Homo sapiens: one gene and its partner. The protein of the gene in region 1 purifies or fractionates together with the protein of each later gene. This does not show direct contact. Each region holds a gene or a part of one and is shown in the gene's direction. Other genes may lie near its edges.

Evidence for each region. Proteins that work in one complex are often made in the same cells at the same time.
Region 2: the proteins of MRPL45 (region 1) and ZC3H4 fractionate together in Homo sapiens (co-fractionation; one large-scale study listed by BioGRID). This does not show direct contact.

Annotation. Positions count from the first base shown.
Region 1 is NC_000017.11:38,303,633-38,307,280, forward strand, and holds part of MRPL45 (large ribosomal subunit protein mL45), read left to right. Parts: intron 1-2,900; coding exon 2,901-2,999; intron 3,000-3,648.
Region 2 is NC_000019.10:47,093,140-47,096,787, reverse strand, and holds part of ZC3H4 (zinc finger CCCH domain-containing protein 4), read left to right. Parts: intron 1-2,179; coding exon 2,180-2,399; intron 2,400-2,707; coding exon 2,708-2,818; intron 2,819-3,648. UniProt on the Homo sapiens protein: RNA-binding protein that suppresses transcription of long non-coding RNAs (lncRNAs). LncRNAs are defined as transcripts more than 200 nucleotides that are not translated into protein.

The DNA of each region.
Region 1 (3,648 bases):
CCCTCCTGGAGTCTTCTTACCTGTTTTAATCTGGACTAGTTGCTCTTAAGGCCAACTGTACGTCTTAGGATCTAAGATTCCTCTTGCCTCCGTCTTCTTTTCTTTTTTTTTTGAGACTGAGTCTTGCTCTGTTGCCCAGGCTGGAGTGCAGTGGTGCGATCTCAGCTCACTGCAACTTCCGCCTCCCGGGTTCAAGCGATTCTCCTGCCTCAGTCTCCTGAGTAGCTGGGATTACAGGTGTGCGCCACCACGCCCAGCTAATTTTTGTATTTTTAGTAGAAATGGGGTTTCACCATGTTGGTCAGGCTGATTGCCTCCCTCTTACGTTGTATTCCCTGTTGCTTGGATCCTATGTCTTTATGTTTTCATAGTCTATTTCATTACTTTGGTGGAGCACATTTTCTAGCAGCTGCCTGAGAAAGGCTGCATGGTGGATAAATAAGATCTTGCAAGTCTAAAAAGAAATATTTTATTCTCCCACTTCATTTATAATTTGCCCAGGTATTTAATTCTGTGATAGAAATAATTTTTTCCTCAATTAAAAGTACTGCTCAAAGTCTGGGCATGGTGGGTCATGCCTGTAATCTCAACACTTTGGGAGGCTGAGGCAGGAGGATCACTTGAGCAGGAGTTGAATACCAGCTGGGCAACACAGTGAGACCTTGTCTCTACAAAAACTAAAAAAAAGTGAAAATTAGCCAAGCGTGGTAGTGCACACCTGCAGTTCCAGTTACTTGGGAGTCTGAAGTGGGAGGATTGCATGAGTCCCAGAGGTCAAGGCTGCAGTGAGCCCTGATGGCGTCACTGTACTCTAGCCTGGGTGACAGAGTGAGACCCTGTCTCAGTGAATGAATGAATGAATGAGTGAATGAATAATAAAAGCACTGCTCTGTTGTCTTTGTAATTACTTTTTATTTTATTTTTTTTTTGAGACGGAGTCTCACTCTTTCGCCCAGGCTGGATTGCAGTGGCGCGATCTTGACTTACTACAACCTCTGCCTCTTGGGTTCAAACAATTTTCCTGCCTCAGTCTCCTGAGTAGCTGGGACTACGGGCGCCTGCCACCACGCCCAGCTAATTTTTGTATTTTTAGTAAAGACAGGGTTTCACCATATTGGCCAGGCCAGTCTCGAACTCCTGACCTTGTGATCAGCCCACCTTGGCCTCCCAAAGTGCTGGGATTACAGACCTGAGTCACTGCGCCCGGCCGTAACTTCCTTTTTTTTTTTTTTGAGACGAAGTCTCGCTCTGTCACCCAGGCTGGAGTGCAGTGGCAGGATCTCAGCTCACTGCAACCTCTGCCTCCTGGGTTCAAGTGATTCTTCTGCCTCAGTCTCCCGAGTAGCTGGAACTACAGGCACGTGCCATCACGCTTGGCTAATTTTTTGTATTTTAGTGGAGACGGGGTTTCACCATGTTGGCCAGGATGATCTCGAGCTCCTGACCTCATGATCTGCCTGCTTTGGCCTCCCAAAGTGCTGGGATTACAGGCGTGAGCCACTGCACCCGGCCTGTCTTTGTAACTTCTAATGTTGCTGTTAGGAAGCCCAGTGTTGCCAGGTGCCATGGCTCAGGCCTGTAATCCCAGCACTTTGGGAGGCCGAGGCAGGCAGATCACAAGGACAGGAGTTCGAGACCAGCCTGGTCAGCATGGTGAAACCCCATCTCTACTAAAAATACAAAAATTAGGCGGGCGGGGTGATGTGTGCCTGTAGTCCCAGCTACTTGGGAGGCTGAGGCAGGAGAATTGCTTGAACCCAGGAGGCAGAGGTTGCAGTGAGCCGAGATTGCGCCACTGTACTCCAGCCTGTGCGACGGAGTGCGAGACTCTGTCTCAAAAAAAAAAAAAAAGAAGCCCAGTGTTATTCTGACTCTTTTTTTTGAGATGGAGTCTCGCTCTGTTTCCCAGGCTGGAGTGCAGTGGCGCGATCACTACCTCTGCCTCCTAAGTTCAAGTATTCTCCTGCCTCAGCCTCCCAAGTAGCTGGGATTACAGACAGCACCACCATGCCCAGCTTTTTTTTTTTTGAGATGGAGTCTCGCTCTGTGACCCAGGCTGGAATGCGGTGGTGCGATCTCTGCTCACTGCAACCTCTGCCTCCTGGGTTCAAGCGATTCTTGTGCCTCAGCCTCCGGAGTAGCTGGGATTACTGGTGTGCACCACCATGCCCAGCTTATTTTTGGATTTTTAGTATAGATGGGGTTTCACCCTGTTGGCTAGGCTGGTCTCAAACTCCTGACCTCAAGTGATCTACCTGCCTCGGCCTCCCAAAGTGCTGGGATTACAGACGTGAGCCACCGCGCCTGGCCTATTTTGACTCTTGAGCATTTGTAAGAAACCCGTTTTTTCTGTTTTTAGTGCATATCAGATGTTATCTTTGATTCTAGAATTCTGAAATTTCACTATGAGAAGTCTTAGTCTTTCTTTAGAGTGCTTAATTTAAGAGGGAGAAGGTTGAATTTCCAGGACTTGACACATTAAAAAATCAATTATTGGCCGGGCGTGGTAGCTCACGCCTGTAATCCCAGGACTTTGGGAGGCCGAGGCGGGCGGATCCTGAGGTCAGGAGATCGAGACCATCCTGGCTAACACGGTGAAACCCCGTCTCTACTAAAAATACAAAAATTTAGCCGCGTGTGGTCGCGGGCGCCTGTAGTGCCAGCTACTCAGGAGGCTGAGGCAGGAGAATGGCGTGAACCTGGGAGGCAGAGCTTGCAGTGAGCCGAGATCATGCCACTGCACTCCAGCCTGGGTGACAGAGCGAGACTCAAAAAAAGAAAAAAAAAAAAAAGCTAAACAGTTATTGAGTAAGTGGATGGACATGAATGGAGGTCAGTGTAGGCTGTGAATTATGGAATTGTAAGACCTTTAGAAGTAATACTCAGGCTTAATTTTACAGAATCCGGAGGATAAAAGACTATGATGCCAACTTTAAAATAAAGGACTTCCCTGAAAAAGCTAAGGATATCTTTATTGAAGCTCACCTTTGTCTAAATAAGTAAGTGAACTCCCTATCTTTACCCATTCTGTTCTCAGCAGTTAGCTATTATTTTAGGCACAGTTTTTTTGTTTGTTTGTTTTTGTTTTGCACAAATTTGTTTTCTGCCTTCAGGTAAGAGATCTAGAGTGAGAGAACTTCCTATATTGGAAGTAATTAGTGACTGACGCTGTCTTTCACTCCCCTCTCTGCTTCTGGGAATTTCTACCATTTGGTCTGTCTCAGTTCCACCTGCAAGTGTTGGGACCTTGTGCCAGAATAGCTGCCTTTTTCACCCTATCTGATCCCTGAATTCATTCTGATCTTTTTTGTGTGTTTGTCTTACGTATCTTCATTTCCCTTTCCTTGGTTATTTTGAATATATTTCTTGTGAAAATTTCCAGCTCTCCCTCCACTTTTATTTTTTTATTTTTTATTTTGAGATGGAGTCTCGCTCTGTCGCCCAGGCTGGGAGTGCAATGGCGCAATCTTGGCTCTCTGCAACCTCCACGTCCCTGGTTCAAGCAACTCCCCTGCCTCAGCCTCCCAAGTAGCTGGGATTACAGGTGCACGCCACCACATCCAGCTAATTTTTTTGTATTTTTAGTAGAGACGGGGTTTCATCATGTTGGCCAGACTGGTCCTGAACTCCTGACCTCAGGCAACCTGC
Region 2 (3,648 bases), on another chromosome or scaffold:
GCACAGATATGGCATTTAAAATATTAGTGGCCTGGGTGGTGATCATGTCCCTCTCAGCTTTATCCCTTCTAGACTTAAGTGTCGAGAGTAATGTTGTTCTTAGCTTTTCTTTATGGAACCCCAGCATGTATACCTCCAGTCTGTCCCGGGCCTTCTCCCGCTCAGTCTGTCCGTCTCTCCCTTTCTCTTGAGGTGTGGCCCTGGCCTGCCCCCAGTATTCCCATCAGGGTGCCACCTCCCAGTGTCTGCACAGCTCCTGGCGGCGGGCAGTTTGCCATGTCACTGAGTAACAGCTTCTCCCTTGGGACAAAACCAGTTTTCCCAGTCATGTGGCCCTTTTCGGTGTGGGTGAGGTGTCCAGTGAGGACTTTGCTCCACGCCTGGTTTCTGTGGGCCGCACCCCAGCGGGAAGGCACCTCCCTTGTCAGGACTGCAGCCTGCACCCCCGCCCCATTCCAAGTTTGCTAGTCGGGGAAGCAACACAAGGTGCACATGGGTCAGGTCACCTGTGTTGTTGACTTTGAAGCAGCAGAAAGAGTTTTGTGTCCTGCATTCTGTTTTGAGAGTTGCCCTTGACCTCTGCCCAGGGGTATCTGTGGGGCTGGGCCACTTGGGTTTGAAATAGAACCCATCCCCTTTGAACTGGGAGTGAGAGTTCATAGAAAAAGCTGCTCTTGAGGCGCTCCTTGATGTTTGGGTAGCAGCCCCAAGGCAGACAAAGGGAGGGACATAAGCGAAAGGACAGTGGAGGGTCCTGGGAGGAGGAGTCTGCCACATGCCCTGGAACCTTCAGGCAAGCACGCCTAATACATTGGCTCCCGCTTGGGCAGCTGCGGGCCTTTCCGCAGAGATAGCTCCATTTGTGGCTAACCTTTTGGGGCCTGGGCTCGTGATGTTTCCTCCTTACATCACTTCTCTTTGTGTCCTAGTTAATTGAGACGGAAGGAGTTGGATGCTCTCACGCAAGCCTTTTTGTGGTCATTCATGGGGAACTTTGGGAGCTTTTTAAAATTATTCAAAAAGATTGTTTTTTTCCTTTACCAACTCCTGTACTTGTGAACACTGTGTCTGTGGGTTTGGCTCAAAAACTGGATTCTTTTTCCAGCCTCCCCCTCCTGAACCCAATTTCTTCCTCACTCCTACCCCACCCCATAGATATTTACATATGCAGAATGTCCACTGGGCAGTGTCTGTCATGTTTGGAGAGCACTTTTAAAGTCCTGGAGATTGGGGTGACACGGGGGAATTGGAAGAGTGTAGGATGGGGAGCCAGAAGGGGTTCCACTATCTGGAGGTGAGTCAGAGGAGGGAGAGAAAGCAGGGCCGGTATCATGTGAGGCCCTCAGGAGGGGCCTGGGATCCGTCCCCCCTCCTCCAGCTGCTCAGTGTTTGCTTGCCTCCGGCCTAGAGGTGTGGGACTGACGAGGGTGGGTCAGACCTTGTGACCTGGGACTCTGAGCCTGTTTCCAGCGGTTCTCATGGGGCTTTTGTAATAAAGTACTTGGAGGGTTCTCAGGCCACAGCCCAGGCCTGCCTGTGGGTGGGTCCCAGGTAGCTTGGGGCCACCCCTGGTTCAGAACCAAGGCCCTCTCCACGGTGCACAGCCACCGCCCTCAGCCTCAGGTGGCACTGACGCCCAGCTCACTGGGGCCCGGGGCCCAGCAGGCAATCCTGGGCCTGGGAGGGAGGGGATGTGGGTCTGTGCTCCCTGGGAGAGAGACTTCTGTGGTCAAGCAAGGTTTAGAAGTGCCCCAAGTGCTTCACAGCAGAGCTGTGTGGGTTTCTGGACTATGGGGCTTCCTGGAAGTTGTGCAGCGTTAAGCATTATGAATCCCCAAGATGGGGCTCTTCCTGCTTATGTGACCACAGCACCTTGTCGGTTTCTTCTTCTAAGAACACTAGTTCTGTTGGGAAATCTGGCGTAGATGTGTCCCGGTGTTAGTGGTAATGCCCTTAAACTCCTACCCCTCCCCCAGCCAGGTTAGACTGGAGCAAGCACAGTTCTTTCAGGGGGAGGATAAGGGATGGAACAAGAGGCCATGGCCCCCATGTCCTCCCAGGGTCTCACTTCGCTCACAGCAGTCAGGCCTTCGGTTCCTGTCAGCCTTGGCCAGCCCAGAGCCCTAGGAGGTCTCCTCTCAAACCCTGTGTTCATGGTGGGATTGGGGTTTGTTTGTAGGGAAGATGGAGAGTTGGAAGAAGGTGAATTGGAAGATGATGGGGCAGAGGAGACCCAGGATACCTCCGGAGGGCCTGAGAGAAGCCGGAAAGAAAAGGGGGAGAAGCATCACAGTGATTCGGATGAGGAGAAGTCCCACAGGAGACTGAAGCGGAAACGGAAGAAAGAGCGGGAGAAAGAGAAAAGGAGGTCGAAGAAGAGGAGGAAATCCAAGCACAAAGTAGGTCGGAGATCCCCTGGGACTGCCACTGCCTGGCATTGGGCCTGGCTGAGAGCCCCAGGGGCTGAGCTTTTGCTGTCCACCCCAGAGGGCACTCTTAATGCCTTTGCTTATCTCAAATTGGATAAAGACCTTTTTTAAAAGAGTTGGTAGCTTATGCTTCATTGCCACTAAGTGCCCCAGGTGAGGTGTTTCAGGTGAAGCGCAGAGCCCTGCGGCACATGCCAGCATAGTTTGTCCTGAGGCTGACTGTGCCCGAGTGGCCTGCCTGTGGCAGGTTGCTGAGTCTCCTTCCCCTGTCATTACAGCGCCATGCTTCTTCTAGCGATGACTTCTCTGACTTCTCAGATGACTCGGATTTCAGCCCCAGTGAGAAAGGTCACCGCAAGTACAGAGAGTACAGCCCCCCATATGCGCCGGTGAGTGACTGGCATGCACTGCTGAGCTCTGGGGCCGGGAGGAGTTCAACTGCTTGTGTTTCTTGAGCACTTGCTGTGTTCTGGGCATTTTTTGTGAGTTTCAGTCCTGGGCCATCAGGTATTAATTTAATCCCCATTTTATGAGTGAGGAAACTGAAACTTAGACAATTTCAACAAGGCAGCCCAGACAACCAAGTGAGACCCCACAAAAAATAAAAAAATTAACCAGGCATGCCTGTAGTTCCAGCTACTCAGGAGGCAGAGGTGAGAAGATCCCTTGAGCCCAGAAGTTTAAGGTTGCAGTGAGCTATGATCAGCCACTGTACTCTAGCCTGGGTGACAGACAGAGCAAGATCCTGTCTCAAAAGGAAAAGAAAATTTCAACAGGGTTGCCCAGCTCTCTGAAGTAAAGGAGCTGGGATTTGAACCCAGGCCCTAGCTGACCTCCATGAGGCATGTTCTCGAGCCTCCTCCATGCGGCCTTAGCAAGGCCCTGTATGTCTCAGAGAAAGATGCTGACTGGTCCACGTCACGGCTGACTGGCTTCCACTGTTCACAAATGACCTTTTTGGGAAATTGGCAAGAGAATGAAATGTTCTCAAGTAGCCAGTAGGCAGAGGTTAGATACTCAGCCACTGTCGCTCTCATTTCAAGCAGCAATTTAAATTATTTGTTCAGTTTGTATACCATTTCTTCCCCCAGAAAATCCCATAAGAGAAAAGCAAATCATTTTTTTTTTTTTTTTTTTTTTTTTGAGGCAGAGTCTCACTCTGTCGCCCAGGCTGGAGTACAGTGGTGCAATCTCAGCTCACTGCAAGCTCTGTCTCCTG